Linked DNA regions of Homo sapiens: region 2 is linked to region 1. Evidence: fine-mapped expression QTL. A gene starts in region 1. The other region holds a variant in brackets. All regions are shown on one strand. Distances are from middle to middle.

Region 1 (17,213 bases):
TTTACGTCTTAGATGTATCTTAGAAGGACATCTTAGATGTGTTTGTTTTGCAGATGAGGACATGTGGGTCCATAAAGGGAAATTATTTGCCCCACATTAGACAAACAGTAAAAGATGAGATGGATCCCGAGCCCTGGCCACCCCTCTCCTTGGTTATTACATATACACTGTTCCCAGTTGAAGATGGGACACATTTTAATGACATTTTATTTTACCTTTTTTGAAAAAGAGAGGAAGGCAAAAACTCATTTTTTAAGTTCATCTCTTTTTTTTCTTTCTGTCGGCCAATACCTACAAAATATCTTTCTGAGCTCTGTGAAAGGCCTTACTTCATGTATCACTTCTTAGCCTGATGAACGATGGAAATTTGACGCTAGCTGAAGGTCAGAAGCAGAAGCAGGAATGTGACTGGTCAGATGATCCTACCATTCAGTAACCCTAACCCACTCAGAAACGCATTTTGGGGAAAAGGATGTACTTTTCTCTAATCAAAGATAAGATTTCAAATATGGTTAGAGCTTCCTGCCATGGAAAAAAATGTAAGTTTCCATAAGTTCTTTAGACTTTAGGAAGCTTTCAAAAGTTATCTGCTTTAGTTTATGAAAACTGACATCAGAACAGTTGCCATTTCATCGAGTGAGATCAGAGTAGGGGAAGTGATGAAAGAGCTGTAGTGATTTCCACATTATGAGAAGATTAAAAATATTGTTTTGGACAAAACTAGACATACAAGGCTGTTAACCTGAGTAGTATGAGTGAAAAGCCTTTATGCAGACTTCATCTTTTTAGGAGGATAACAATGCAATAAATTGGGGTCCTCACTGCTTTGGGTGTCTAGCTGTCAAGAAAAGGTTTCCTGCACATCCTTCCTAAGAATTAGCTCTGGTGTGCCTCAACTCATCCTGATCAATGTCTTCTCTTCTAGAACTTTACCTTCCCTCCAGTGGTTTATCTTATAGATTACCTTAGAAAAAACTGGTTAAAGTTCTGTTCTCCGGGCTCGGTCTCTCCTCCAGTTAAAATTGTTGTTTTTTGGCCAGGCATGGTGGCTCATGCCTGTAATCCCAGCACTTTGGGAGGCCAAGGCATGCAGATCACCTGAGGTCAGGAGTTCGAGATTAGCCTGGCCAACATGGTGAAACCCTGTCTCTACTAAAAGTACAAAAATTAGCCTGGCATGGTGGTGTGTGCCCGTAATCCCAGCTACTTGGGAGGCTAAGGCAGGAGAATTGCTTGAACCCAGGCAGTGAGCCGAGATTGTGCCATTGCACTCCAGCCGGGGCTACAAGAGCGAAACCCCGCCTAAAAAAAAAAAAAAAAAAAAAAAAATTTTTTTTTTTTTTTTTTTTTGGCCAGGAAGCAGGCAAGGCAGGGAAGAGGGAGGTTAGAGGTGAAAGTTACCACAGTGATAACCATCACGTATCACATTCCTACCCTGCCCCAGGTGCAGTGCTAGATCATCCTTCCTAATCTTTACAACACACCTGTGATGTTGTTATTGCTGTATCTTTACTCTAAAGTTCAAAGAAATGTCACCAGCTTTCCAACTAATAAGAGGCAGAGTTGGTACTTGAACCTGGGTTTGCCCAACTCTACATCTGTGCCTTTTCTACTGTGTTATACTCTCTCCATTAGACCCTAGGATATAGAATTGAATCTCAACACTTTCCGAACATTTGTTTGGAGACATCAACCTCTAAGGAGACCTAAGTTGTTAGAAATCAGACTCTCTCATTTAAAATTTATTAATTCAACCAAATTGAGGAAGTGGCCTTTTTGAAAAAGGCACTGCTACATGTAATGTTTCTACCATGGCCACTATCAAATCAGGCTTCATGTGGCCATACCTAACAAGTGATCATAGGAAAGCATTAGAATTCTTTACTGGAGTCTTAAAAAAAAAGTCAGAGTGATTTTATTCATAATATGCAGCAGAATTACCTAAAATGCCCTCCTCTCTTTCTCTTCTACAGTCTTTCTCTGTCACACACACACACACACACACACACACACACACACACACACATACACACCTTATACTTGCCAACTCTCCCAAACCTCTCTATGCCCAGTGACCTCAAATCTTTGAGCCTCACACTGTGCTAGTTCTTGCCTTCCTTGCTTCTTACCCTTTTGTCTGCTATGACTAATGGTTAGCTCTTTCCAGTGCAAATCAATCCAGCTAGACTCGGCTCCTTTTGCCCCTGATTCTGATTCTGGACAACAAAGACTCAGAGACAGGAAGACAGAATTCTCCTTCATGGGTAGGGGAGAAGGAAGGGCTTGGAATAAAAACCCTCATGTGTTTTTCCTGCTACTCTGTGTTCTCTGTAGTAGTTGCATGGTACGATCCGGAGTCTCCAGGGGTCGTCCTCCCCTTCTTTAGGGGAACAAGTAAAAACTGGTAGCCAAGCGATGTTCTGTGTGAAGAAGGCATATTCACTGAGGGAAATGAATAGACATTGTGAGGTTTCTCAGCCAAAATGGAATTTAATGACACACTTTCCTTTATCCTCATCCCTGGCACAGTATGAGAAACCTCGGTTGCGTTCCCACACCACACACAGAGGGAATGCTCAATTTGCTGCTCTCAAGTTTGATGCCAAAGCCAAGCCAACATAGGAGTGATGGTTAGCATTTTAGTAGGTCTAGCCATGAAAGACTACACACCGCAGGGAAAAACAACAAAACACACGAGGTCTTTGGTGCATTCCACCTGCATTCAATTGAAAGGTGGAATATGAACTTGGGGATTCTAAGTTTATTTACTGCCTCCCAGGTTGATATGGCTTGTGTGCTGCTGTTTGAAACAGCCTTTACAGTTAGCTTGTAAAAAATGTACAGGTCATCTCGTGTCCCTCATCTTCTCATAATTTTATATGGCTCCCTACTGAATGTGGAATAAAATCCAAACACTTCAGAAACGTATTTAAGGCTCTTCCTGAGTGAAAGTAACATTCGAGTAACATTCAAAAGTAACATTTATCTCTCACTTTGTACATCACACTCGGAAACCAGGGCAACAGATGGTTCATGACCTACACCAAAAGGCTTGACCACATCGTGAATACAGTGATAAAAGTGTGTCAGATGGCAAGAGCCATTCTCCACTGTAGGTTGGACCGGGTGAAGGGGAGTTCTGATGCCCACTGGAGCAGGCTGGCTTTTGGTTGTTCACTGATGTGCTTGGATCAGACCAATAAGTTAGTCCCCTTGCGCATCTTTTGTGGGTATTTGGGAAGACTTAATAAGAATTTTTTGTCCCTTCACTCATCTTGTGATTATTATGTCCTTTCTGGTTTTCTTTTATTTGGTGAGAGTTTTAGTTATTAATTGCTCTATAACAAATTACCCCAGAACTTAGTGGCTTAAAACAACAACATTTATCATCTCATTGTTCTCATGGGTCAGGAATATGAGCAAGGCTTAGCTGGGTCTCTGGTTCAGGGTCCCTCACAAGGCTGCATTCAAGGTGTTGGTCAGTATCATTTCCAGGCCAGAGTAGGGAGCTTAGAACTTCCGTTTCTAAGCTTACTCGTGGATATTGGCAGGATTCAGTTCCTCACAGGCTGTTGGCCAAAGCCATCCTTGTGTACTTGCCATGTGGGTCTTTCTATAGAACAGCTTACAGGGTTGCAGCTTGCATCATCAGAGTGAGCAAGCAGGAAGGGCCTGAGAAAGAAAGAAAGAGAAAGGGAGGGAGACAACAAGTGAGATGGAAGTCACAGTCCTTTATAACCTAATCTCTGAAGTGATGTTTTGTCAGTTCTGCCTTATTCTATTAATTAAAAGCAAGTTGCTAGGCCCAGCCCACATTCAAGGGGAGGAGGTCCCACAAGGGTCTGAATGCCAGGAGGAAGGGATCTCTGGGAGCTCTTCAGAAGCTGCTTGTCCCGATGAATGAAATGGTTGTATCCGTCTATTGAGCAGCCAGGGCATAGATCTCTCATTCTCCTGAACACCGGCTCCTTGTGCTTATAGGACTTTAAAGATAACACAGTTTTCCTTGGTTAACCTTTCTTGCATGACATCCAAGGACTTTTTTCTAATTTTCTTCTGCACATATATACCAAATAGAGATGATGTGTTCTCTCTCTTGCCTTCCAAGTAAAAATCCACTTCAAGACATAATTCCTGCCTTTTAGGAGACTACTTTCTAGAAGACAAATATAGAAGAAAGGTCAAATGTAAGGTAGACTGTGAAATGTTAATGAAGTATAATATGCAAGAAAGACCAAGGAAGAAATTTTGATTTGTGATTAAGAACTTTGGAAGGGGTGGGATTTGAACAGGGCGTCTACAAATAGTGAAGATCATGGAGTTAGAGGAAGAACAACTAGCTTCAGGGCATGGAATGAGAAAGGCTCTGAGTCAGAAGGACCTGGGTCTTATCTGGAAGTGGCTATCATTTGCATTATTTGCACTGGGTCCAGTGGCTGCAGCTGGACGCAGAGTCCCTGAGAAAATCCATGCTTGGAAACTAGACCAGGAATAGTAAGCTGAGACCAGAAATGCCATCTGGGGGTGTTTGGACTCATTTTGTGTGCAGTAAAAGCCACTGAAAACAAGGGAATCTCGTGTTCCAGATAACTGAGGTGGCCGTATAGAAAGCTGATTATGGCAAGATACCAGCAATAAAAGTCAAGTAGGAGATAAGTAGTCCAAATGAGAGAGGATGGACACTTAAACCTTAGTAGAAGCAGTGGGATTAGAGATGAGGAGACAGGATTTACTTTTCACTAAATGTAATATGCCATCAATGATGACACACACCATTTTTAAAAATTATAGCTCATTTAAAAAAGCTGCCAATTCAATGATGACACAATGCTAAGACACTGGCAATGAAAAAAATGCATCTTTATTTCAGAGGTTAAAAAAGGTGTACATCTTAGAACTGATGAAATACAACAGATAATTTTAGGAAGATGACATTTGCATTTTGGACTTGAGCAGTGTGGAGGGTACTGATGCCATTAATAGGAATCATGGGAACATGGGAATGAGAAATGAGCTCCAAAAGAAAAGATGCATTCTCTTTTGGACATATTGAGTTGGCTATCTCTAAAAGATATTCATGTGCAGATGTCTGGCAGACTATTAGAAATGCTGGTTTGGAACTCAAGGAAAAAGTTACAAAAAATTGGACTAGGTTAATGGATGGACTATTTTGAAGTTAAATCCTATGCTTCAGTATAAATGAAGACATATTTTTTTTTTCTATAACCACTATGAAGTTCCCCTCCCCCTCCAAATTATAGTATTGTCTTTGGAGTGTTTGATCCACATTGGCAGGGACTGGGATATGGAGAAAGGAGTGAAAAAAGGAGTTTGAGACTACAGGAAAAGTCATTAGCAATTGCACTTAGAATTGAAAATCATGACAGAAAGACCGGTGCAGTGGCTCATGCCTATAATCCCAGAACTTTGGGAGCCTAAGGCAGGTGATCGCTTGAGCCCAGGAGTTCAAGACCAGCCTAGGCAACATGGCAAAATCTTGTCTTTACTAAAAATACAAAAAATTAGCCAGGCATGGTTGTGCATGCCTGTAGTCCCAGCTACTTAGGAGGCTGAGGTAGGAGAATCACCTGGGCCTGGGAAGTCAAGCCTGCAGTGAGCTTTGAATGTGCCACTGGACTCCAGCCTGGGTGATGGGAGTCGGACCCTGTCACAAAAAAAAAAAAAAAAAAAAAAGAAAAGAAAAGAAAGATCTTCATATAATTGACAATTCATTGAGATATCATATCCATCCAATCTTGTGCCCTGCAGCCTCTCTTATACCCCTGATATTTCATTCTTAGTACTAGATGAGTATATTAATTTGCTCTGATGGCCATAACAAAGTACCACAGATTGGATGGCTTAAATAATAGAAATTTATTTTGTCAATTCTGTAGGTTAGAAGTCTGAGATCAAGGTGTGATCAGAGTGGGTTTGTTCTAAGGCCTGTCTCCTTGGCTCCCAGATGGCTGCCTTTCCCTGCATCTTCACGTGGTCTTTCCCCTGTATGTATCTGTGTCCATATTTTGCCTTTTTATAAGGACACTGTCGTATTGGATTAGGGCCCCCTCAGATGACCTCATATAACTTAATTACCTTCTTACAGTCACTACAGTCACATTCTGAGTTAGAACGGGTTAGGAGTTCAAGATACGAATTGGGGGAGGGAGGAGGAGACAATTTAGCTCGTAACAGTGGGTTAGCCAGCTAAGCCCTTAAATTCTTATTCACGTGTGTTTTGAATGCCTAGACTTGCTAGCTGAAGTCTAATATCCTCTTTCTGCACCACCACAAACTATTTTTCCAAATTTGTTTCCATAATTATTCTGTGTCTCTGCAGAGGTGGAAGGTTATATATAGCAGTGCTGTAAAGCTTTTTTTTCCCCAACTTCATTTTTTTTTCCCTTTCCTGTTCCCGAAAAAACAAAAAATGCCATTCTTTGAAGAAAGAAACCACTTGTTCTCCCTTATCTTTCGTTGAACAGCGTTTAGCAGAATTTGTGACATTACATCAGTTCCTCACTTTTTTCCCTTAGGAATAGACCTTCAATTACAAACTGTGAGCAAAAAATATATAATAGCAGGAAATACATATTTCAGCTGACGTCTGACTCCTTTTTTTCCATAGTTATAGCTTACCTAGAGGATAACTTTCTGTGGAACTAATTCTTAGCATGTATTCCAAACCCAGGTTTATAGGGATTTGGTTGTTTGACAACAGGAAAAAAATACCACCAAATGTATGAAGTATGAGACCATGCTAGGCTGAAACAGCACTTCTCTTAAAACGTGCCTTCCTCTGGATTGTTTTTGTAGGAAGTTTGTCTTGGCAAGCATTTCAAAAGAACTCGCTAGACGCCTCTCTTGTAATTAGCTGGCTTTCTGCTAGAATGTTAGGTCTACCTTCATCTCAAATGGTACAAAAATTAATTCCTCTCTGTCGCTCTGTCCACAGTATAAAATACTAGATTTCTGAGTAGTTTGATATCTAATTTTTCCTTTCTAAAATTTAACTATATTCAGTTTAAGTTTTTGATTTAACTTAAACATAACATTAAAAATAGGATGATTGATATAATGTTATATAGGAATGGTACTTTTCCTCTTTTCCCTCAGTGTTAAAAGAATGGTACTTTTTCCTCACAAAAACCTATATCCCCAGCCATGGAAAGAATATCAGACAAACCTAAATGGAAGGATATTCTACAAAATACCCGACCAGTATTCTTCAAAACTGTCAAGGCCATCAAAAGCAAGGCATATCTGAGAAACAAGGAAAGTCCAGAAAAAGTTAAGGAGACATAATGATTAAATATTATATGGCATTATAGATGGGATCTTAAAACAGAAAGAGCATATTAGGGAAAAACTAATGAAATCCAAATAAAACATGGATTTAGTTAATAGTAGTGTACCAGTGTTTATTTCTTAACTGTGATAAATGTAGATGTACCATAGGAATGTAAGATGTAAGACATGAGTTATACTGAAACTCTGCATATTATCTTTGTAGCTTTCTATAAATCTAAAAACTATTCTAAAATAAAAAGTTCACTTAAAGTAGGATGAATGACAATAAAGATAAAAGAGCATAATGCAAGGAAACTATGAAATAGGTAAGGAAATACAGAAGTTATTAATAAATATTAAATGTCAGCCTACCACTTGATGTATTTGTGTCAATAAATGGCAGGATACCAGTGAGTCCATTGGCATATTAATCCAATAAACTTTTATAAATGATGAATTGGTTGTAAACATTGTGTTTTATAGCATTTGAAAATTCCAAATGGTAACTCCGCACACGATGCTTCTGCTCACATATTTCAGCATCCTGCTTTTAGAATCTGCAGAAAGAAATAGTTCATGTCCTTTAGGGAGGTTTAATAAAAAGCAACAGGTGGAAAATGGATTTTGCAGTAGCATGAACAGCCATAACCATAAATACTAGTACCTCAGAATTATACCAGCAGAGGACTGTAAACACATTAATCTCCCAGCAGTGCAGAAATTCCATTCTCAGATGTCATCTCAATTTCAGGCACAAAGATTGAATGCCTCCATTTAAATTCAAAACACTGAAGGAATATGATGATCCTTTTTTTTCATGGGGATTCATGGAGTGAGTTTGCCAGTTTCCTCATCTATAAGATGGGGTTGATAAATCCCATCTCAGCATTGTGGGATTAAATGAGATGATATACATAAAATACCTAATATGATGGATGGTACACAGGATGTTTTCAATAAATGGTAGTTTACTTTTTATTATGCTCATGAACATTAGGATGGTCTTAGAATCCCAGAACTAGAAGCCACTTAGAGATTTACTTTTTGAAACATTGTTATTTTACAAATAAGGAAACTGAGACCAGAAGGCAGTGACTTGCCTGGAGTCAGGCAGCAACTTTGTTCCAGAGTTGGGACTGGAGTGAGTCTTTGTTCCTCGGGTCCCACTTGGGTGCTTTTTCTAGATCCAGATTTCCTGACAGTACTGCAAACCTACTGTGTGCTAGTGGCTGACACAAAGCTCTCTGCACAATTCCAATCCTGGCATCTCTACTTCTGAAGATGCCATTCCTTTTCCTCAGAGGGAATGGGCTTCTCCGCCTCCCTCTCCAATAGGTGTGGCAATCAGCTGTCTTCCAGTTCCCTTTCACTGCATCAGCATTTCAGCCGCAGCAGCCTGCTTGTGGACAGAGCAGGGGTTGGCAGTGGTGACGACTGTTTTGGGAAAGGAAATGTAAGGGCATTTCGGCTGCTGTGCTGGGGCTGACGAGGAGCACACAGGAGAGATGCCCCTCCCATCTCCCAGAGTGGGTTGGCTGGAGTTCATTGCGGAGCATGAGGACGTGTGGGGGTAAGTAAAATTCATTATAAAAGAAATACATGCTTAGGGGTATCCATGATGGAAAGAAGGAAGCTATTTAGACTTTAATACTTGGTTTAAAAAAAAGTGACTTTTTATTCACTTATTAGTATGGCGAAAATAATATGAAAATTACTTTCCTGTGGATTCATCTTGTCCTTTGATAACTGTTAGCACCTGTTGCTTTTAATTAAGCTTTTTTTTTTTTTTAATTCCCTAAGGAAAGCATTGTTTTTTATTTTCCGGTATGTGGTACAAGACACATAACTCCATTAGTTTAGTCAAAATAAAAAGGATTTTTGAGAATTTTGAGAATGAGAAGCAACTTGGCTGCATTTTTAAGATGTGGTCCAGCAGCACATGGTGTTGTGGGGGAGATGTGGCTGCATTCATGGTGGGGCTGCTTCACCTGAGCCCCTGTCACATTCTGCTCCTGACTCCACAGCCCCCTTTGCTTTTTAAAAACTTCCATTTCTTAAAATGAGGAGGAAAAGAAGCAAGGAAGACATTGGGGAGGCAGGGAGGAGTCTGGAGGGAAGGGCTGCATCTCCAGCCTTGCCCACTTAGTCCTTGTCCTTCATAGTCACTATTTACTGCAGGCCGGGAAAGGAATGGGGGTTATTTCTGGACAATTGTCTCATAAAATCCCGTCAGACCCGTCTGAATGCTAAACGTTCCATGGCACTGGTTATCTAGGGGAAGAAAATTTTCCTTAGCCAAATTTATGAGGCTGGGTTGAAAATCAGGTTGAAACAGAGCCTGGCGAATCCCTATGGCAAAATGATTCATCTTTGTGGAGTCGGGAAATCTATTTTTATCACCTTTATTCAGCCAGCTCCTGATTGTGATTCTCTCACTGAGCTACAGCCGTTTTCTTCATGGTGCTGAATAGACCAAATGTCTCAGGAGTCTGAAACTTCTCTCCTGCCACTCCCAGAGTGGCTGATTCAGCAGTCCCGGGAGAAGGGGTTTGTCCTGTGCTGCGCGGGTGGGTTCCGCACAAGGTGAAGGTCAAATAAAACCGAGAGGCTGCAAGTGTCAGCAGCCAGCCTTTGACTCAGGAATCCTGCCTGAGGGTATGTGCCACTCTGCTCTCCTGCTCTCTCTGTAAGGTGACTAGAAGGTGACTGGGCAGCCATAACTCCTCCAATTTTGAAGACCTTCCCAAGGGAAGAAGGGGCAAGAATAAGCCACCCTCCTTACAGCTGCCAATACATCTCCTCAATCTAATCATCGGGCAGAGAGGGACTTCCTAACACCGTTGTATTCATTTTCCCATTTCCATTTAGTTCTGTAACTATGCATTCCAGGCTGATACATAGTCCTAGCTGGTTCTTGCTGGAGTCCCAACTAATGCTGAGAGGAGTGGCAATTGTTCTCTATAATAAAGTTTAAAGGATAAAGATATGGAAGAAGAACTCACTCTTGAGTTTCCTTTTCTAATGGATTCAGCATGCTTACTCTCTGGGAGCTATAACAAATGGCAATTAGGAAAGCAACAGGAATGTTGACTAGACAGGAACAGTGACCATGGCTGTTGGGGGTATTCCCTGCACCTGGTATATAGTAGACACTCAATAACAATTTGGGAAATGAATGACCAGGATACTGTTCCCCATAGGCTTCAGTTGGCCTTCTTAAGAGCTCTCCTTCAGGACATAGTATGCAGGGCAGCTAGGAGCTGACATTCTAGAGTGAGATGGCCTGAGTTCAAATCCTGGATTTGCAGCTTCTCAGTTGTGTGCTGATCTTTGGCAGGCAACACAATCGTTTGTTTCCTCGTCTGTAAAAATGGACATAATATAGTAACTACCTTATGTGGTTTTCATGAAGAGTAAATTAATTAATATAGGTAAAGAGTCTAGATTTTTTTTTCTTGTCATGTGGTTCAAGATATGAAGAAGAAGAAAAACAGGAGTAGGAAAAGAAGGAGAAAGAGGAGGAGGAGGAACTTTGGCTGTTGGGATAAATTTGGGACCCTTTGAGATTTTGGCCCTGCCTTTTAGGTTGAATATTTCCCTAAAATCATGATTCAGTGATTTTTAAACCTTCTCTTGTCCTGTAGAGAGAATAATTTGAGAATAAAAGAATAAAACGGGCCAGATGCAGTGGCTTACGCCTGTAATCCTAGCACTTTGGGAGGCTGAGGCAGGTGGATCACCTGAGATCAGGCGTTCGAGACCAGCCTGGCCAACGTGGCGAAACTCTATCTCTACTAAAAATACAAAAGTTAGCCGGGTGTGGTGATGGGCACCTGTAATCCCAGCTATTCAGGAGGCTGAGGCAGGAGAATCGCTTGAACCCGGGAGGTGGAGGTTACAGTGAGCTGAGATCGCACCACTGCACTCTAGCCTGAAAAGAAAAAAAAAGAATAATAAAATGGATTTCAGGGGGAAAATGATGACGAATTATTGCCAAGAGTTATTGAACTCCTGCTCCTTGCCAGGTACTAACCATATTCAGTGTTGAAACAAACTGTCAGTCCTTGCCCTGATGGACGCTGCAGTTGACTTTCAAGGGCTGCTGGGCAGTGTGAATTCAATGGCTCAGCGAACACAGCTGCTACGTTCCTTGTTCTCTACCTTTTAAAAAGGAATGTTGAGTAGATCTAGAAGGATGAAGCTTTAAACTTAGCTCCCAACAGGAAATGAGGAGTGAGGAAGTAGGGAGAGATTTGTGTGTGTGTGGAGTAGCAGATGAAGTCTAACTGTACAGCAGTATAAAGGCAGTGAAAGAAATGTAGACGTGGGCATTGGATTGAACCATGAAACTGAAGGGAAATCCAAAGCAGTAATGTATCATCAACCTGTGAAATGTAAAGAAGCACAGGTAAGTAGTGAAAGAATGAAGGAACCAAAGCAGTTGTTGTAATGATATAAAATAAGAGCCATAGCTTATTAGACCCTTAGAGTCCCAAAGCCCAGCCTTGAGAGTGTAGATTCGGGAAGGCTGGATTCCTTTGGCATCCTCTCTTTTCAGCTCTGGGTACTGCCGCAGCAGGTGAGCTTGTGTTTGGTCCCTTTCAGAGTCTGGAGTCTCCCATCTCTTGGAAATACAAGGATATGTATGAGCTACCAACTCCCATCTGGCTTTACTGGTCTGTGAAACATTCTATTTTAATTTGGTGAATCCTTTTTTGACTCTAGAGATCTTCAGCAGTACCTGCCCTTCACACCGTTTCCTCACCTTTGCCAGATCTGCTTTTGAGTAGCAGTTTTATCCCTAGATGTCTTATAGCCCAGACCTGGTAAATCACCAATGTGAATTATAGAACAGGATCATTTTTCATCCTGCTTTCATCCCAGTGGCTGGATTAATTTTTGGATCTCTGCTTTCTGTAAGCAGTCATTTCTTCCACAGCAGCCATCTGTGAAGAAACAGAGCTTACGAAATGACTGGGGCATGTTTTACATGGCTGTGCTCAGTTCCTTCTGTTTGATTCCCATGTAAGCTTTGGCAGTGATTTCCACAAGCGTTTCTGTGGGAGGTGCTGGAGAATGACTTTGGTAAACAGCCCCTTGGCTATTGTTGGCCCTTTCCCTGCAAATACCATAAAGGACACAACTTGAAAAGTCGCTCTGGTTTCTGAGCCCCTCCTAGGGCCCACCCCAGGTCCGACATCTGAAAAGCCGAACTCAGCCATGCTTGTGGTAGAGCAGCGATGTGGACTGCGTCTGTGTTTGCCTGACTTCTGCTGGGCCACTCTGGGCTGGATGGGAGCTCTGACCATAGAGCTTACTCCCCTCCCCTCATTACACATCCTGGGATTTTCACACTAGCCCTCAATCTGTTGGAGTCTTTTTAGGTAGAATCTCATTTCATCTTCCTCGTTTCCGTTTCAGGTTTTCATTCCAAGAATGGAATGGCTGGTTCCATTGAGAACCAGCCTTAGGAGTTCTCAGTGTATTGATTTTATTTACACTGCTAGTGTTACATTTTGCTTTTAGGAATATGGAAAAGCTTAGGGAATTTTTGGACATGTGTTTTTCTCTCTTTCTTTCTTTTCTTTTTTTTTTTCCTGATGGCCAGAGGTTTCTGCTCTCAAATTACTCAGTCAGGGTAATTAAGGACTAAAAAAATGTGAATGTGTGAATTTAACAGTAAAAACTTAAAGGAAGGAAAAAATACCTTCCTTATAGGAAGAAGAGAAAAATGCATATAAATAAACTTGTTAGAAAGAGAAAACTGATTTACCAGCAACTGAACTCCCTTTTGTTTCTTGATTTTTTTGCCTTTAAATAGGCTGTGCTATTTCCTGAAGTTGACCCATTTTCCTTGCTTCTGCCAACACTCCCTTAAGATAAGTATTTATAAAGTTTATTCCACGTTGATATTTCAATTGTTTCCAGAAATCCATCCCATCATAGCAGCTTCCCTACTGCCAGGGAACCTGACCTCAGTATTTCCTGAAGTCAGAGGATGGTCTTATATGTATGTAAGTGCAGGTATCTACAGTAAGAGAGAACAACTTGCTATATAGGGCTCATATGAGTCAACGCCAATAAATTGAAAATAAGAACTGAAAAAATTGTAACATTGTCCTCACATTATTTTTAAAGCATTATCTGTTTCGATGCTGGCAAAACTGATTATCTTATATAATGGCCAAAGGAACTGTTCACTTTCAAGAAATAAGCAACTAGCCTGTCTTTGTTTTCATCAGCATGTTTTTTGGTGACTAATATGTTGATTTGATGAAAGCTAATTGCACAAACATGCGGTTTGTGGGGAAGAAGGTAACGCATGGAACTATGTCTAAGAGATGTGGGTGTTCATTCCATTGGTGGATCCAGCACTTTCTTCCTCAATAAAGAGTATTTGTTCCTAAAATAACTGGTGTCCTTCAAGGCACAGAATGTCTAACTCAGCTGAAGGTATTTAATTTATATTATAAATGTACATATATATTTTATGAATTTTAATAGAAATATATTAATTTACATTTATAAGTTTAAACATAAAAACATAAAATACATGAAATATGTTTGAGTGTATTGTTAGGGACATCTCTGAGCTCCTGTGGAGATAGTGTTTTTTCCCTAACATAACTTACATTTAAGAAAATTGGATTTTTCATGAAATTTACTCAAGTAAGACTGTAGGCTGAGTTTAATATATATGACAACTAAACTTTCGGCCCATATTGCACCAAATTAAAGCTTTCTTCTTTGTCTTTGAGCACAAGAATGAAAGCTGGCATACTGTCCGGTAGACTGAAATGTGTCCTCATGGTCATTTTGACCACCTTATGAGCATGATTAATTGACAACATGTTGTTACTATCTTAATTCTTTGGTCTGAGTCTCAGCTCCCGTGTCAGACCTCTGAGTCCCAAACATAGCGCCACAGTCTGGGTCTTCACATCTTGGCCAGGTTTCTGTTAAAAAAACAAAGGCGCCTCTGTGTTATACTTTTATGGAGCACATGTGGTGTGTATTTATTTTGTGATAGGTTTTTATCACTTGGTAGAAAGATGTTACTGTATCTTAAGTGAACGATTGTTTCACCCTGTTGCTCCACAGACCCTAGTTGTTTCTTTAAAATGGGCGATGGATTTTTAGGGGCGTATTCACAAACCTGCCATGAAAGTCTTTCTTCTCCAGATGTTTACTTCTATATTTTTATGTGAAATTCAACTTTTTCACCTATGGACATGCTTCCCTGCAGCAAATAACATGACAAACTCTTTGCCTTTATATTGTCTTTATATTTCAGATACCCCCCCACCCCCACCAAGCCTTCTCAATTCCAAACCTGTGATTATGCTGGATGCTTTACGTGTTATGCTCCGGCTTGTAATGGGCCAACTGAAAGATAAACTGCTATTAAATAAATCTATGACTCTTTTGAGAACAAATAGAGCTGTTGAAAGAGTTTAAAAACATAGTGACTCCTCGAAAGACTGTGAACATTCTTGAACCCTTTGAATCAAAGTGAATTTTCTTCACTCTCTGTGTGTGGGTATACACTGAAACTTATAAGAAAGAACCTCAGTAGCAAGATATTTGAAGGCTTTTGTGTTCTTAACCCTGCAAGGTTTTTCTTGGCAAGACTTGAAGAAAATGTAGCTGTCGTCTATTTTCTGCTCCTGTCGAGGGGAGCAGTTGAGTCTGGGAGGCCTCTAATGTGTCAGAGAGAAGCCTGCAGAGTAGAGAAGAGCCCAGAAGCCTCCAGGTGCCCAGTGGTTCCCTAATTATTCCATTACCTAGTTACCTGGTTTTCTATTACCTAGTTACCTAGTTATTCCATTCCATTCCACCTCCTCTCCAAGCAAGGCTGGGTGGTTCTTCTATTTTGATCTCTTCTCATGTGTCTCTGTTGCTGTGGAGCTGCAACATCAAAGCCTACCCCAGACCACACGTGTCTTCTGTTGCCACCACGTTTCCCTCTGGACACTGGATCAGCCTTACTGCCATTAGGATGCTTATGCTTCCTAGAAAGCCTCATTTATCTGTGCTGGGGCAGCTGCTGAGGACTACACAAGATTCACTGTCATGGGTTTAGCTTTCAGGGACTCCCCAACTTGCCTAAGTTACCTCTTGGGTCCTTGATTGAAACTCCAGTTGCCAAGTAATGAAGATACAGAATTTTGCATTGATCTCTCTTCCCTTTTCCATCTTTCCTGTTTCCATTCTGAAAGGAACTGCTCTGAACTGGCAAATGCCTACAGGGACTTCAGTGTCATAGGACAGGCTACTTTGACTCCTTTGTATAACCTCAAAGTCACTGCCAATACAAGGGTAAAACAGATTCTGTTCTTTGTACTCAAATTCAGTGTGATGTGAGTTGGAATGCTAAGAAAAACTTAAGAGATATTTTTAGCAAAAATGAAATATTTTGATGCCTATCGCTCACCTGAAAATTTTCCCAGATTTGCCATTTCTAGATTTTTAGCAGCTTCACAAAGGGGTATTGTGTTTGAGTCGGAAGAGAAAAATGTTTTTATTTCCTGTCCTTGACGTTTAGTGGAATTGATAAAAAGCATCAAGGATCTTTGAGTTCTGGATCTCCTGCAAAAAAACACATTATGTAAGAAAGGACTTGAGTGTTTTTTTCCTGTTCGTCAGTACGAGGGGAGAGTTACTGTGGAAAGTGAAGGGCAGTGATCATCAGGAATGGAAAACAAAGAGCTTTGCTAGAAAATCACAGCAAGGGTGATCAAGCAGTTACCCTATTATCTGGCTCTAAACTTAATGTTGACCTCGACAACGACTTTTACATCCTCCCCCCAAACAGGCTCCTTTACTCATTCCTGAAAGGACACTGTTGCAACTTGAGTTATAGGGTTGTTGGAGCTACCTGATGTTTTATTAAATGGTTATTTAATCAATAAATGAGTGAGTGATCATCTCTTATGGTTGATCAGAAAGTATTCATTTAAAAAGTCATAGGTTTAACTTTTTTAAAAGTCAAGTCAGCACAGAGCTTATGTATTTAAGCAGTTGGAAGTCAAAATATTAATATGTTCAGTCAAGAATATCCATTTCGTTTCATACTTACTTGGCAGTTTAATTTTTTTTTGGCCATAGTTTACATGGTCCAACTGTTAGGTTGCTTAAATTTGCCAATATGAAATATTAACATTGGGGTGAATGCTTTATGAAAACAAGAAATTGTTTCTGCTTGGTCTACCTGTTTATTCATTCATCAAGATTTCCCAGGCTCTGTCAACAGATTTCTAAGCAGATATTTGATGATATATTGTTATAGGAATAAAAAATATGTTATAGAAATAGAAAACTACCTTCCATGTAGAGTAGAAAGAAGCCTTCATTGGTCTGTTTTTTTTGTTTTTTTGAGATGGAGTCTCACTCTGTCACCCAGGCTGGAGTGCAGTGGTGTGATCTCAGCTCACTGCAACCTCCACCTCCCTGGTTCAAGCAATTCTCCTGCCTCACCCTCCCAAGTAGCTGGGAGTACAGGTGTGCGCCACCATGCCCAACTAATTTTTGTAATTTTCATAGAGATGGGGTTTCACCATGTTGGCCAGGCTGGTCTCGAATTCCTGAGCTCAAGTGATCTGCCTCTCTCAGCCTCCCAAAGTGCTGGGATTATAGGCATGAGCCACCATGCCCAGCCTGTATTTTTTTTTTTTAATAAAAATAATCCTTGGGCAGCTGTTTATGTTGTTCTGTTATGCTTGCCTATCTATAGAATGAAATCAATGTGGTTTTTTTTCTCAACTTTCTTCTTTTTTATTCTTTTTTAGCCCCATCATTCAGTCTCTTTGTTCCTAAGTCTTTCAGATGCTTTAACCACACTATTTTCTTACCTGATTTTCTGTTCCACTTAGCATGTTATTCCAGGCAATGAATGTGTTGCTTCCCCTGTGATAGATTATGGC
Region 2 (14,688 bases), 170 kb before region 1:
CAGTGAGCCGAGATCACGCCACTGCACTCTAGCCTGGGTGATAGAGTGAGACTCTGTTTCAAAAAAACAAAAACAAAAACAAAAAACCCCAAAATGTTACTTCATACCCCCCAAATCATGATAATCTCTGAATTGTGGGGTTTCTTCAAGATTTATTTTCTTCATTATATTTTCCAAATTTTCTCCAATGGCACATATTACTTTTATATTTGAAAGAACTACATTATAGAGAAATGAAAATATCATTTCACTAACAAAGTACTACGAAGTACTACTGAGCCATAGAAAAGAATGAGATTCTGTCATTTGCAACAACATGGATGGAACAGGAGGTCATTGTGATAAGTGAAATAAACCAGGCACAGAAAGACAAACTTAGCATGTTCTCACCTATTTGTGGGAGCTAAAAATTAAAACAATTGAACTCATGGAGATAGCAGACTGATGGCTACCAAAGGCTGGGAAGGGTAGTTGTGGTGGGGATTGGATTGGAAGTGGGGATGGTTAACGGGTACAAAAAATAGGAAGAATAAATAAGATCTAGTATTTGATAGCACAACAGGGTGACTATAGTGAATAATTTAATTGTAAATTTAAAAATAACTAGGCTGGGCATGGTGGCTCATGCCTGTAATCCCAGCACTCTGGGAGGCCAAGGTGGGCAGATCATGAGGTCAGGAGATCAAGACCATCCTGGCCAAAATGGTGAAACCCTGTCTCTACTAAAAATACAAAACATAGCCGGGCGTGGTGGCGGGCGCCTGTAATCCCAGCTACTTGGGAGGCTGAGGCAGGAGAATCACTTGAACCTAGGAGGTGGAGGTTGCAGTAAGCCCAGATTGAGCCACTGCACTTCAGCCTGGGTGACAGAGCAAGACTCTGTCTCAAAAACAAACAAACAAACAAAAACTAAAAGAGTATAATTGGATTATTTGTAACACAAAAGATAAATGCTTGAGGTGATGGATATGCCATTTACTTTGGTGTGATTATTACATATTTTATGCCTTTATCAAAATATCCCATATACTTCATAGATGTATATACCAGGTATATACCCACAAAAATTAAAAATTTAAATAAATAAAAAAAAACACAAAATTATTAGCTCCTAAAGGGCATAGTCTGTGTCCCCTTGTGGATTCTTCTGTATCTTCCACATAGTAGGTTCTTAACAACTATTTATGGATATTATTGATAGCAGCACTAGGTTTGAATTCTATTATGGTTCTAAGTCTGTGGGTCTTTGCTAGCGTGAATTTGTGATTGGTAAAAGCTCAGAAAAAGCAAATGTTACCTTATGATTATAAACCTTAAAAGATGTAAAATGTATTTTCACTGAAGGAAAAAAGTTTTATTTAAATGCCAATTTCAATGCCAGATATATTAGAGATATGATAAAATTTAATACTCATTTTCAAATGGATTTAGATATACCATCTGGGCTAGCTCGCTTCCCTTCCTCCTAGTTACTCCATGCAGTGGAACCTGCCTATATTAGCCCATTCTCACACTGCTATAAACACATACCTGAGACTGGGTAATTTATAAAGAAAAGAGGTTTAATTGACTCATAGTTCCACATGGCTGGGGAGGCCTCAGGAACTTACAATCATGGCAGAAGGAGATGGAGAAGCAAGTGCCTTCTTCACAAGGCGGCAGGAGAAAGAGAACAAAGAGGGAACTGCCAGACACTTTTAAGCCATCAGATTTTATGAGAACTCATTCACTACCATGAGAACAGCACGGTGGAAACTGCTCCCATGATCTAATCACCTCCCACCAGGTCCCTTCCTCAACATGTAGGGATTACAATTCAGATTATAATTCAAGATGAGATTTGGGTGGGGACATGGAGCCAGATCATATCACTGCCCAAAGCCATATATTGTATTAGTGTACCAGAGTCATTTTGTGGACTGTTTGCTTTGCCATGTTTCTTTATGGAAACAAGGTCATCTTCTGCCCACACGTCTTTAGCCCTTTCCCATGCTTGCCTTCTTTATCTCTTCTTTGTATACTTTTCCCTCCCTCTGTTTTGGACAGCAGGGTGGAGGTGAGGATCAGTGGTCTGTACTCAGCAACTGCTTGTTTGTCAGGTCCAGCTTTGGTCTGTTTACATTCAGTCCCCTTGTTCGTGCCTTTCACAATGATTCTGCTGGATGACTATATCCACCTCATTTTAGGTGAGGAAACTGAGGGACACACTGTAAGTGGGAGTCTGGACAGGACTGGTAAGACAGCTTGGTGTGCAGTTAGGAGCAAATCTGGCGCCAGGCTGTCTGGGCTTGAATCCAACCCTCCCTGTCCACCAGCTCTGTCCCCTGGTTTCCTCGTAGGGATGATAACAGTCCTATCTTACAGAGCTGGAATAAGGACTGAGTTAGTCAATTATTTGTAATGCACTTAGAACAGTGCCTGGCACAGTATAAGTGCCACGTAAGTGTTTTCAAAGCAAATAAACTAAAGCCTGTCTGACTCCAAAGCTGGTAATGGTGGAATTTGAGGCCTGCTTTTTGTTCCATTCCCCTATTATAGCAGCAGAATTGGACAAAGATTAAACTCGGATTCTGGATGGGGAACAGAGATTTAGAGGCTGAGGCACCCAGGGACCTCCAGCCACCGTCAGAAACCTCTTGTTAGCAGCCATTCTGAAGAGGGGAATCCATTAGCTTGAGGTTAGGCCAAGAATACTGAGCTCCTCCGGACCCAGCGCTGGGCTCACGTAGGTCAGAGCTCCCTGGTGGCCTACCAGGGTATACCCAGGCAACAATCTAAAAGGTAGTGTGTGCCCCCTCACCCGCAGGCGGGACCTGGCCTGCCTCTCCCATGCTATCATTCCCGCCTGGTGCTCTCCACACCAGCTCCAGTCTTGCTGGCCCGCTGTGGGCTCCTCCACGGGGAAGCTCATTCCTACCTTAAGGCCTTGGCATCCATCTGGAATTCTTCCCCCAAATTGTTACACAGTTAAATCTCCCTCACTCATGTCACCTCTTCAGGACATTTCCTTACAGACACCTTCCTTGATCGTCACTTGGGCTGTAGTGCAAAACAGAAGGCATGCTCAAGTGGGAGTGGCCAAGGAGAGTTTAAAGGAAGGGTTAGAAAGAAGTGAGCCGGATCGGGAGACCATTATGGGATGGGGAAGCCTTTACCATACCTAGGCCTGGGAGGTTGAGTGGGACAAGAGGAGATGAGGAACCTTCTGGAAACCCCCTAACCACCTGCAGGAAGGGACGAGATAAATAAATGCACGTCTCTCTTCAGCTCACTGACCATCTGCCTACCTCCCGTTAATGGAACCGCGACTCACAGGTCAGCCTCCCAGCCAAAAGGGGGGAAGGCTATCGGAAATTACCCCGCGCTTTTTCTTTCCATGTCATTATCTTCTCCTCTTTTATCTTAACAACACCCGCCACAATTATCTTCTTTTGATTTACATGTTTATTGTCTGTCCCGGCCCCCAATTCCCTCTACAATGTAGATACCTCGAGGGCAAGGACTTCCAGGTAGGGTGTGTGTGGGTAGGGTGTGTAGGGTGTGTGTGTGTGTGTGTGTGTGTGTGTGTGTTTCCATCTCTGCGTCCCCAGCGCCTGGCCCAGTGCCTGACGCATAGTAGGTGCACAGTGACTGTTGGTTGACTGCATCGACAGACTAGGACACAGGTAGCCTTCCTGGAGAAGAAAAGCTCATCAGGGTCGTTTTTCTTTTTCTTCTTACAAAAAGATCAGGTGGCTGTGTACTTCCCGGCGCCGGGCCAGGGGCTGCCCCGCCTTGCCCCTACCTCTGCGGCCAGGAAGGACTGCAGGTGCTGCGCGGCCAGTGCCCGCGCGTCCTACTGCTCCGGTGCCGCAGCGCCCGCTCCCCCGGGCCCGGGTGCGCCCCACTGGGCGCGCGTCTCCCATATGATGCCAGACCCATCCGCCCGCCCCTCAGCAGCCGGCGGGGCGCAGGGACGTGCGGGGCGGCCAGCGGATTCCCTCTATCGGGCCGGGTGTGAACGGGAGGGAGACACGCAGCGCTCGCTCCGGGTTATTTTTAGTCCGTAGCTGTGCTCCCCCTCCCCGGGGGCGGAGCGGCCCTCGAAGGTGGGGAGGAGAAGAAGCTCCCGGCGCCTCCGCGCTCGCTCCCGCGGGTCACTCACGGCGCGTTGGAGCCCGGGCGGCGCCGGGAACAGCTGCCGCGGCGTCCTCTAGCAGCGCGCGGCTCTCCCGGGACCTGCGCCGGCCGGGGGCGGGGAGAGGCGGGGAGGGGAGGCCGGCGGGCGGGAAGGGGCGGGGAGCGCGCTCCTGCGGCGGCGACGGCGGCGGCCGTCCTCATCCCGGCGCTTGAGAGGACGCGGGGCTGCGCAAATGGCTTGTCCCGCTCTCGGTCTGGAAGCTCTTCAGCCCCTGCAGCCCGAGCCGCCCCCCGAGCCCGCCTTCTCCGAGGCGCAGAAGTGGATTGAGGTAGGTGCGGGTGGCTGGCGGGCGGCCTTGCACTGGCGCCCTGAGCCACGGACCCGCGCACGCTCCGACCGCAGGTCCAGCCTTGCCTCCCCCCAACCGCCCCCACTTTCTTTTGCCAGCTGCTCCAGGTCACCCCCCCGGGCCTCGGCGAGCCGCGAAACCTTAGCGCTTTGGCATTGGAATCCCGGGCGAGGGTGGGCGTGAAAGGGGACACTGCAGTCTAGCTGCGCGCGTGAGGGCAGGAAGGGATCCCCTGCGCGTCCATCCTTCCTGCCCGCTGGCCTCGCAAATCTCAGCTAGCGCCGCTTCCAGGCGCTGCCAAGGGAAGCGCAGTGCTAGCAAAGCGTTGCAAAGGCGCAGGAAGCGCGAGCCCCCAGAGACTTCACCGGTGCTCGCATTTCGGGGTATCTTGCTTCTGGTCCCACATTTCGCCCCTTGTCCCCCTACCCCGCACCCTTCCGGAGCAGAGTTGGCAGTGTCTTCACGGAGGCGCATACCCACCGGAGCCTCTTGCTGTATTCCTGGCACCGGGTCAGGTGTGAGGCTGGCACAGTGCGCAGGGCGGGGGTAGCTTGCAAGACCCACCTGCGAGCACGCATCCGCATAGACGCTGCCCAGCCTTTGGCAACCCCCGCCCCTCTCCATCCCAAGGACTGCAGGGTCGGTTCCGAAGTACGGGCTACCCGGTCTGGTTGGCATATTTCACTTCTTAAATAACTCGTTGGCAGGCCAGGGAAATCACTGGAGCTCTCGGCTCTCAGTCCCGGAAGCGCTCACTGGGTGATCCTGATTCACGATGTCTATCAGTAGATGCAGCTTGGTAGCCCCGAGCTCCCGAAATGAACTGTCTGCGGGGTTCAGGACGCTTGAAGGGCATGAAGGGGAAAGGTGACCCCCTATGATTAGTGCAAGGAGCCTCAGCTTCAATGGGTGGCCTTTCTGGAGGCTTAGTGGAAGGTATGAATTTGGCCTTGTTTCCCTCAGTGACAAGCAGCCCTCTTTGCCTGGTAGTTCAGAGGAGGAAGTGTATCGCTAAATCATGACCCAGCAATGTTGAAGCTTCCAGAATTCCGCCTGTCACTTAGTGACTCCCCACTCCGTTCAGCATTGTGGTTCCCAAGAAGCTGCTAGAGTAACAAGAGCTCCACGTACAGATTTAAACCTGCTGAGCTTCCTGCAGAAACCACCCTCACTTAATGCTGCTCTCCTGCTCCAGCCAGAGACCTGTACCCTACAGGGTTAACCTGCTTCCCGCAAGCAAGAGTGCTACTTGAGTATAGAAACATCTGTTTGAAAATAGGGTTCAAGAAACAGAACAATGAACATCAGGGCTGTCTTGCTGAAAGCCCCAGGCATGTCTCATAATTTGATAACTCACCATCAGATGAGAAAAAGACCTTGGCTTTTTATTTTTGATATGTGGCTGGAACGGTTTGGCGTGTGACAGGTGCTCTGCCTGTGTTGCGTACTTATGCTCCCAGGATACACAGGAAGCATTTGTAGTTACTGGCTTATTGCAGAGTTGGATAACTATTTTTCAGGTTCTTGAACTCTAAAATTCTCAGGAGAGACTTCGAGTGTGGGTGGGGGTAAGGGGAGGATCTAGAAGCAGAACAGTCTTTACTATTCTTGAAGGCAAGTGATTTATTCTCAATTTCCTTAACTGTATCATTGACATATTCTGCTTTAAAAATGTATTGTGGTATGAGTTACACATGTAAAAGTGCACAAATCTGAAGTGTACACCTCCATGAATTTTGACATATGTATATTACTATAGCCCCCACCTAAATCAAGATACAAAATGTCTCCTTTGGCCCAGATTACAGTTTGCTTTTAAGTGGTAGTATATTTCAGGCTATTATGCAGTGCAGAATATTAGCTTTAATATCACGTTTAAGAAAAGGAAGAAGGGATTCCTTAAGACAGTAGAACCTCATTAAGCCCTATAGACAGTTTGGGATTGTTCTTGATGCTTTACCATTCATACCAATTTAAGAATGTGAAAACCGTAATGGGGCATGCGTGGCTTTAGGACCAGGCAGCCCAGGCGAGCTGCGTGTGCATTATTGAAGTGGCCTATCTCCTTTCAATTGTTGGGTTCAGTTTCAGGGAAAGGAGAGCTTCCCCCTCCCAGGCTATATAAAAAGGTAATTGCTCCAGGGGAAAGATAGAG[A/G]CCTCCCCCTTCCTTCCCAGAGGTTCTTCTTGAAATGTAAATGCCGAGTCTGCAAACCACGGGAACCCAGAAGTTGTAACAGATGGTTTTGCATGCAGTTGCCTTGTGAACAAAGATTCCTCAGCTAATACAGCAATAATGTAGTACTTAGGGGCAGTGAATCCCCGGGTGGGGGGGCGGATTGGGGATTGGTATCTCGAGACAATTGCAACTCCTCTAGGGGCCCCATTGTCTCTGGCAGCATCCTCATTGGTAGGGCTTTGTTTTTACTTTTATTCAGTTGGTGATTAAATTTCCCATAGGTTTTTTTTCTTTCTTTCTTCTTTTTGAGTAGTCAGGAATTTCACCCTTTCATAAAAATGTTCCCTTGGGTGGAGCAAGTTAATAAACAAACTTTGCTGCTTGTCTCGCCTCGATTCTTGGTCTTCCTTGAGTCATGGATTGGCAAGAAAACATTCATTCTTAATAAAGGCTCAGGGAACCAGATCCAGGACGTAACTTGTTAGTGAGGAATTTCTCGGCGTGCAGCCTTGGCTATTTGAGGACCGTGTTACTGGGCAGGAAATGTGGCCTGGGAACGATTCCCCCACTTCAGCCCCCTTCCCCTCACTCCTTCCTTAGTTGGCAAAGGTGAAAGCTCTAACGGAGCACTAGATGGTCACAGACCACGTGGGGACAGCCCTTTAACACTCCTAGTGACTTTTTATAGCTGTAGGAACAGGTTGCACATCTAACTGTGTTTGGGAAGACTCCTAGAGGAGACAGCAAACTTGAAGTAGTAACTGTGGCTACCAGCAGGCAGGGGAGTGACTAACTTCTTTCCATACTACTTTTCTAGAAGGCCTTACTAAGCAGAACACAGTAGGTGAGAGGTCAGACCTTGGAGCTGGGCATCCTAGGTTTGAGTCCAGAGTCTGTTACTTTGTAGCTGGATGACCCTGAGCAAGCTACTTTTCCTTTACTGTGGTTCCAAATGATTTCTTTGGAAGATAGCTCTAGTTGTTAGCAACAACAAAAATGACTAAGAGTTATTATTGAGAGCATCTGTAAAACAGGATACTAATAACAGCTCACCTATTTCATAGGAGTGCTGTCAGGATTAAATCAATTAATATATTTAAAATGCTTAGAACAGTGCCCAGTACATAGGAAGTGCTGTGTAAGTATGGTTAGTAGTATTATTACCATTATTATTACCACTGCTGTTACTTTTACTACTACTATTATCATTATGATAATTATTACTACTACTGCTATTGCTATTGTTTTTTTCTGTTGTTAATAACAACTAAGGTTGATTTTGAAAGAAATGATTCAGAACACCAGATTTCCCGGGTAGAAAATATGATTCAATTGCCTACTGATTTCATCCTATTATCTCACTCTGTTAACTCTGGATACCTGGAGTCGAAGTTAACTAGATGCTACATGTCACTCTAATTTGCACTAAAAGTGACTTGGGGATCAGAGAAAAACCTTTAATATCTACTCATAAAGTGATCTTGGTAGTCCATCAAAGCTTAGAAAATTATTCTTCAATATTATGCTGAATATGTAAGTTTAATGTATAATCTTTGTTACCAAACTCCAAGCAGAATGCTCAATGCCTCTCCTCTTGTTCTTGTAGATGATCTAATATTAAATCATTATACAAATAATGGGTCCAAATATTCATCTAAATGCAGCAGAATTTTATTCACTGAGGTTGTGTCAACTCCTGCTAGGAATAAGAAGAATTCTTCCATTGATTTTCTTTCCCTCTTCCTCCCTTTTATTATTTCCTTCTTTTTTTTTGGTGGTATTTATTGAGTTACAAGAGTTTATTAGTAGGTTAGATGACTCTGATTTTCCTGATTCCCCGCTTCTCTTGGCCTCACCACCCACAACAATATTTATCTGTTCTAATCTGTGGTTCTTCTTTTCAGTGCCAAACACTTTCTGAAGAAACAGATGTCCTTCGACTTGGTTTCGGTTATGATTTGGAACAGGTTCCCAGGCCTTTAGGGAGGGACTGGAAATTTCAACCCAACTCAGCCTTATTTCTCAACTTGAGAAGTTCCTGGACTCCTTTACCTTCAATCAGAGTGTGCCCATGGGGCTTGGTGATGAATACAATCTTATTTGTGACCTAATCCATACTTCACAAGAGTGAGAACTAGTGCTGGAAGGGATCAGTTTCTCATTTTGGTTCATTCCCTGCTGCCCACATAGAATTGTTTTCTTATTCAGCTGGGACCTAATTCTGAAGATTAAAAACACTGAGGGTATCATAGCTCTCCAAGACCAAAAGATGCTTGTGTTGTTTGGCAGTAGGGAAAATTTATGAATAGCTTTTGAGATAATTTAGCATTTAATGGCCAGTAACATATGACTTTTGTGATGTAATACCATAAGTTATACATGTAGTCATTCTAATTCTCCACCTCTGTAGGGACTAGATTCTTAACATCTTTTTATCCCAACAGGTAGTTAACTTTGCAGATGGTCCTCCAGCTTTGCATAAGTTGCCAAGGAAGAGGAAGAAAAAACTTTTCTGGCTAGATCAAGGAAGGAGTAGTGGTCTGAATAGATATGTAAATGAGAGCAGGCGGCATCTTTCTCACAATGACATTTAAATAGTCTAGCTTGTTTGTATACAAGAGCAGCTATGACACAATGCTGTCACATGGTAGGAAAACAGTGAGGTCCCACAGATTTGGGGAAAGGGGATGCGGAATGGGAGGTGGAGCTGGCACTTCTTGCCCCGGCATCTCCCTGGAAACCAGTTGCATCAGGCGAGCTCCAAAGGGCAGACTGAGCACTGGCTACCAAGAAAGGGAAGGCTGAGCATGTGTTCTCAGCCACTGGGTCTCTTGGCCTCCAGCTCTCTGCTGATGGATGACAATAGAGCCATGATGTAGACAGTTGGCCTTGATTCTGTGAGTGGCAGTCAGTGCTAGGTGGGACTAGGCAGCTCTAGGAGTACTAGAAATTGGCCTGGCAGCTTCTCTTTTTGCTTTAGACCATTCTGAAGCTTAAAAGCATCATAGTTGGGGGATAACATGATGATAAAAATTATGTTAATGATGCTGATGTTGCTGATGATAAAAGGTACTATTTATTGGGTGCTTATTATGTGCCTGCTAAAGTCTATGTACAGTTGGCCCCTCGAAGTGGCGCAAAATACATTTTGTATTTTGTATTTTGGCCTTGATTTTCATGATTCAGGACAGAATCAGTTAACACTGGTTGATTTTTGACCAAACTGTTCTTACTGGAATTAGGTTTTCCTTTTAAGCCCAGTTCACTGTTCTGAGATTTTTTAAAAAGTACAATACAATTTTATAATAGAACACCTCATATGTTCCTTAGGATGTGTGTGTGTTTACATCTGAGGCAGAAGAAAGGTATCAGATATGATCTTTTTTGGAGGAAGGGTAGGGTAGATAAAAGGATGACTTCAGTGCTATTAAATCAGGAAAGGAAGGGATAATAGAACTTTGGTTTTAAGTGATTGAGAAATATAAAAATAGCCTAAACTAGAGGGCTAAAGATAATATAGGGGAAAAATAGTTCTTAAAAAAATGATAGAATATTGGAAAGACTTCTGTCTGGACATAAGATGTTATATTTCAAGGAGGAATGATGCCGTGGAATTCAGTTCTGCTGTGATAAAATTCCATGTTTGCAATATTGAAAACAACACTTCCAAAGAGATGCCCATGCATCTAACCCTGATGGGATGTGTATTAGTTCATTTACATACTGCCATAAAGATACGACCTGAGACTGGGTAATTTATAAAGAAAGGAGGTTTAACTGACTTACAGTTCCACGTGGCTGGGGAGGCCTCAAGAAACTTATAATTATGATGGAAGGCAAAGGGGAAGCAAGACAGGTCTCATATGGTGGCAGGAGAGAGAGAGCAAGCGAAGAGGGAACTGCCAAATGCTTTTAAAACCATTAGCTCTCATGAGAACTCACTCACCATCATGAGAACAGCATGGGGTAACCGCCCCCGTGATCCAGTCATCTCCCTGCAGGCTCCCTGTCCTGACATGTGGGGATTACAACTTGAGATGAGATTTGGGTGGGGACACAGAGCCAAACCATATCAGGATGGCTAGTGTATCTCAGGGAATTACCTTTGGCATCAGGAAAAGGACAGATGATATAGTCATATAAAATGCACCTAAGAAATAACTTGGCTGATACCTTTTCCCACTGTCAGCAAAACTGTGCTCTATGCTGAGACCTTAAGAATAAAATATTGGTTAGGTTGGGAAAGCTCCATGTTTCCACTGTCCTGCATTTTGCCTGTGAGAGTTACTCTAGTGTGGCTGTTGGAGGCTGCAGCTTGGCCTCCTGGTCAGTGTAAGTTAGGGACTGCCCCACCCATTCACCCCTAGATAGCCCATTAGGAGGCCATGGAGGAATACACCTGCACTTGCTTTTAAAATCAAGGTCGGCTAGGTGCGGTGGCTCACGCCTGTAATCCCAGCACTATGGGAGGCCAAGGCTGGTGGATCATGAGGTTTGGAGATCCAGACCATTCTGGCTAACACAGTGAAACCCTGTCTCTACTAAAAATCCAAAAAAAAAAAAAAAAAAAAAAGGAAAGAAAAATCATCCGGGCGTGGTGGCAGGCACCTGTAGTCCCAGCTACTCGGAACGCTGAAACAGGAGAATGGTGTGAACCTGGGAGGCGGAACTTGCAGTGAGCCAAAATCGCGCCACTGCACTCCAGCCTGGGCGGCAGTGCGAGACTCCATCATAAAAAAAAAAAAAAAAAAAAGAAATCAAGGTCAAGAACAGAAGGACTTGTAGCTTTTTCATTTCCATGACTGAAAACTGTTAAAAAAAATTCCTCAGCCTTATTTTTTTGCCAAGTATGTTCACCAAATGGGTCTGCACCAAGTGAGGAACTGAAGTTATATTTATTGCAATGAGTACATAGCTATCTTTTTCTCCCCTCAGAAGTGTTTAAAAAATATTTTGAACAATTATTTTATTTTAATTGAATATCTTATTCCAATTGAAATGGAATGAAAGCGACAATAAGCTCAGTCAAATTGTTAAAATATGAAAATAATTATTTGGGAGACTTGGCTATCACTCATTTGTAAGTTTGCTTCAGTATAAACAGTGGCAAAAATAAGCATTAATATTTTAATGTGTGAAAGTGTGCTTTCAAAAATTATTTCCTGAAAAGTGTTTACTGAGCTCCAACAATGTGCAGCATAGTGTTAGGCATGGTGTTAGGTAATGAACAAAATAAACATACTTCCTGCCCTCATGAAATATACAATGTGGCAGGGGGACAGAGAGATTAAACAATACATATATAATTACGATTTGGAATACATACTATGAAGACAAAGAATGGGGCAGGGGGGATTAAGAGAAAAGCACTCTTTAAAAAGACAAGGATTCTTAGTGAAAATAAGATTTAAGCTAAGACCACGGAAGAATTCTAAGCAGGAGAATTTGATTGATGATGATTTATTGAGAAAAGGGCTTGCGTTGGATGCTACACATACTTTTATTATGATTGTGTTTTGAAACAAGGTAGGGTAGAAACACTCTTAAATTTCTCTAGGTCTATTGAAGGTAGATATGTGTTGGTGGTAGGGCAGGGGGTGAAGGTACCTGCCTCGGAAGTTCTTGAATATTCCTTGCAGGCCACTCAGAGTTTGCATGATGATCCACTGTCCATTTTACATCTGAGGCACAGATAAGAACTCTTCTAAGAAAAATGCGGAGAGGACTTTGGGATTTGTGTTTGAGCCTAGACTCTGGATTAAAATTCTTGGACAAAATAGAGGCTGTAGAGGCTGTACTCCACTCTTAGCAGGAAGGGGCTGCGGGAAACCTGCTTGCTTTTCAGTGAGGGAAGAGAGCCATTTTGTGTGAGACTTAGGGTGGTGACCCACAGATGTCTTCTCATTTGGGAACTTTTCCCAAATTCTTCCAAAAGAGGGGGCTTTATAAACTACTAAAGCCAGGTGCCCTTTGGGATCCTCATAAATTGTAAACCCTGGAGGTCCTTGACTGAGATTCCTTTCAACACTTGAACTACCATTCTTAGACCCCCTCCCCCATCTTCCCAGTCTAACATGGCTGCTGGAGAGTCGTGATCACATCACCTTTCCAGGAAGCTGGATGGAGGCAAGGAAAGTGAAGAGTGCATCCTTCCCATATAAGGTGGCTTCTGGGAAACCCTTTCTGACATACTGGCTACTATTTTATTGCCCAGAACTTCAGGAACATGGCCCTTTCTGTATATAGGAGAGACTCTGGAGAAGGATCTTTTACCCCAGGCAGGAGTAATGCTCAGATAATATTCTTGAGTTGTATTCCTCAGGAAAAAGGGGAGAATGGCTATTGGGGTAGCCACAACCTGGAATGCCCCTTCTCCACTTCTCCAGGGACAAATCCTTTCAAGATAGAGCTTAAACCCGACTGCCTCTGCAGCATGGTCCCTGATTCCTCTAAGCTCATTAATCCTTCCCTTCTTTGTACACACCTGAGCCTCAGTTTTTGCCTTTTTTTTAGAAAAGTTGCTGTATTTTACTATCACGAATTTTTTTTGTGTGTGTGTGTGGTGGGGGGATTTGCCTCCTTTGGTGAACCCCAGAGCCCTGTGGCCAAGGACTGCGTCTTAGTCATCACCCTGTTCCCTCCTTGTTTCAGCCAGGCTGTTCCTCACTAGGGCCTCACAGCCACATTTCCCCACTGCCTGAGCGCTTTCTCAGTGAGTCTGTGCCCAGCTACGGTTGCCTGATTGGCACTTGGACTTGGCTGTGGCAGAGAAAATAGACTCTGTTGCTGCCCTGACAGGAAGCAAAGTGTGTGTGTGTGTGTGTGTTTTGTAGTGATTAAAAAAAGCAGTTTACCCAATAGTTGCCTGGAGACAGTCAGTGATTGGACACTCGGAGGGTGATTTCTCTGTTGGCCCTTGGGTGAAGATATTCTTTAGGGTGCTAACCCTCCCCTCAAGTTAGACTGGGTCAGGGCTCGTTGGAGTTCCTGGCTGCAAGGCGGGAGAGCAGACATCTCTTTTCTTTAAATAAACATGCCCCCAGCATTCGGCCTTAGGGCTCTCACCTTCTCTTTCTTTCCCTAAGTCAAAGCAAACCTCTCTTTCACCTGTTATAGAAGTCTAGCTAATTCCCACTTCTTAGGATGAGGGAAAGATAGAGCACTTCCAATGATAGTGAATCTAAAAAGAAATGGAAGAATTTTTATTATAGTGGTCACCTGTATGAGTTCTTATTAGACAGGTATTTTTAAAGGAAAAAAACCCAAAATAACTGACTAGTAGCTGGTATCCATGGTATCAATAAATGGCCACGGCTGTGACTGTTAATTGTCATGACCCAATGGGAGCACTGAGAAATAGCATCCCCTCTTCTTTTCCTATGGAAAATTAAAAAAAAAGTTGCCTGTGGAGCTGAATGTTGTCATCAGCCAACAGATGAGGTTGCCACCTTTTTCCCTAAGGGACCATGCAAGATGTCATAAATAGGAGGGGCCAGTGACAAGTAGAAGCCTGATTCATTATGCTGTTAGAGTTGACAGAGTGTGATAATAGTGATAAAAATGGCTAGTTCAGTGCCAAATAAAAATAACAGCAAACACACTTCTGGAACACTTACCATGTACAAGCGGTAGTCTAGGAGCTTGCTTGAGTGGTAGTGTAGGTGCTTGCATGAGGTGGTATATTGTGTATAGAACAAACACCCAGCACAGTGCCTGATATATAAGATACTTCTCAAGCAAGCACTGTTTATGGCCGTTTTACAGATGGGAAAATGGAAGCACGGAAATGGTAAGTGATATGCTTGAAGCCACACAGATAATCAGTGGCAGAGCTGGGATTTGAACCCAGGCAAACTGGTTCCAGAGCTTGGACTGGTGACTGCTGTGTCCCGCTGCCTTATCCTTAACAGCTGCTCCGTATATATTTACTTATTGGAAAAAGTACCTTTGCAGAGTTAGTATTTGGGACCCTTTAGAAGTAAAAGCGAAACTTCTAAAAAGATCATGGTCCCAAGTAACTACCTAACCAAGCAGGTGACCTGC

The links.
Region 2: its variant is fine-mapped to the expression of LIMCH1 in iPS cells (PhLiPS, PIP 0.95).

The regions. Positions count from the first base shown.
Region 1 is chr4:41,529,491-41,546,703 of GRCh38, forward strand. LIMCH1 (LIM and calponin homology domains 1) reads left to right here and starts at 8,667. Exons shown (of 32, transcript NM_001330672.2): 1 at 8,667-8,860. It overlaps LOC105374423 (a long non-coding RNA gene), which reads right to left. Exons shown (of 4, transcript XR_001741667.2): 3 at 15,725-15,879; 4 at 13,964-14,246.
Region 2 is chr4:41,356,489-41,371,176 of GRCh38, forward strand. It overlaps a transcript of LIMCH1 not described here. Among named protein-coding and RNA genes, the nearest start is that of UCHL1, 110 kb to the left of the region's middle. RefSeq lists an enhancer at 6,336-6,997. The variant A/G (reference allele first, on the strand shown) is at 6,625.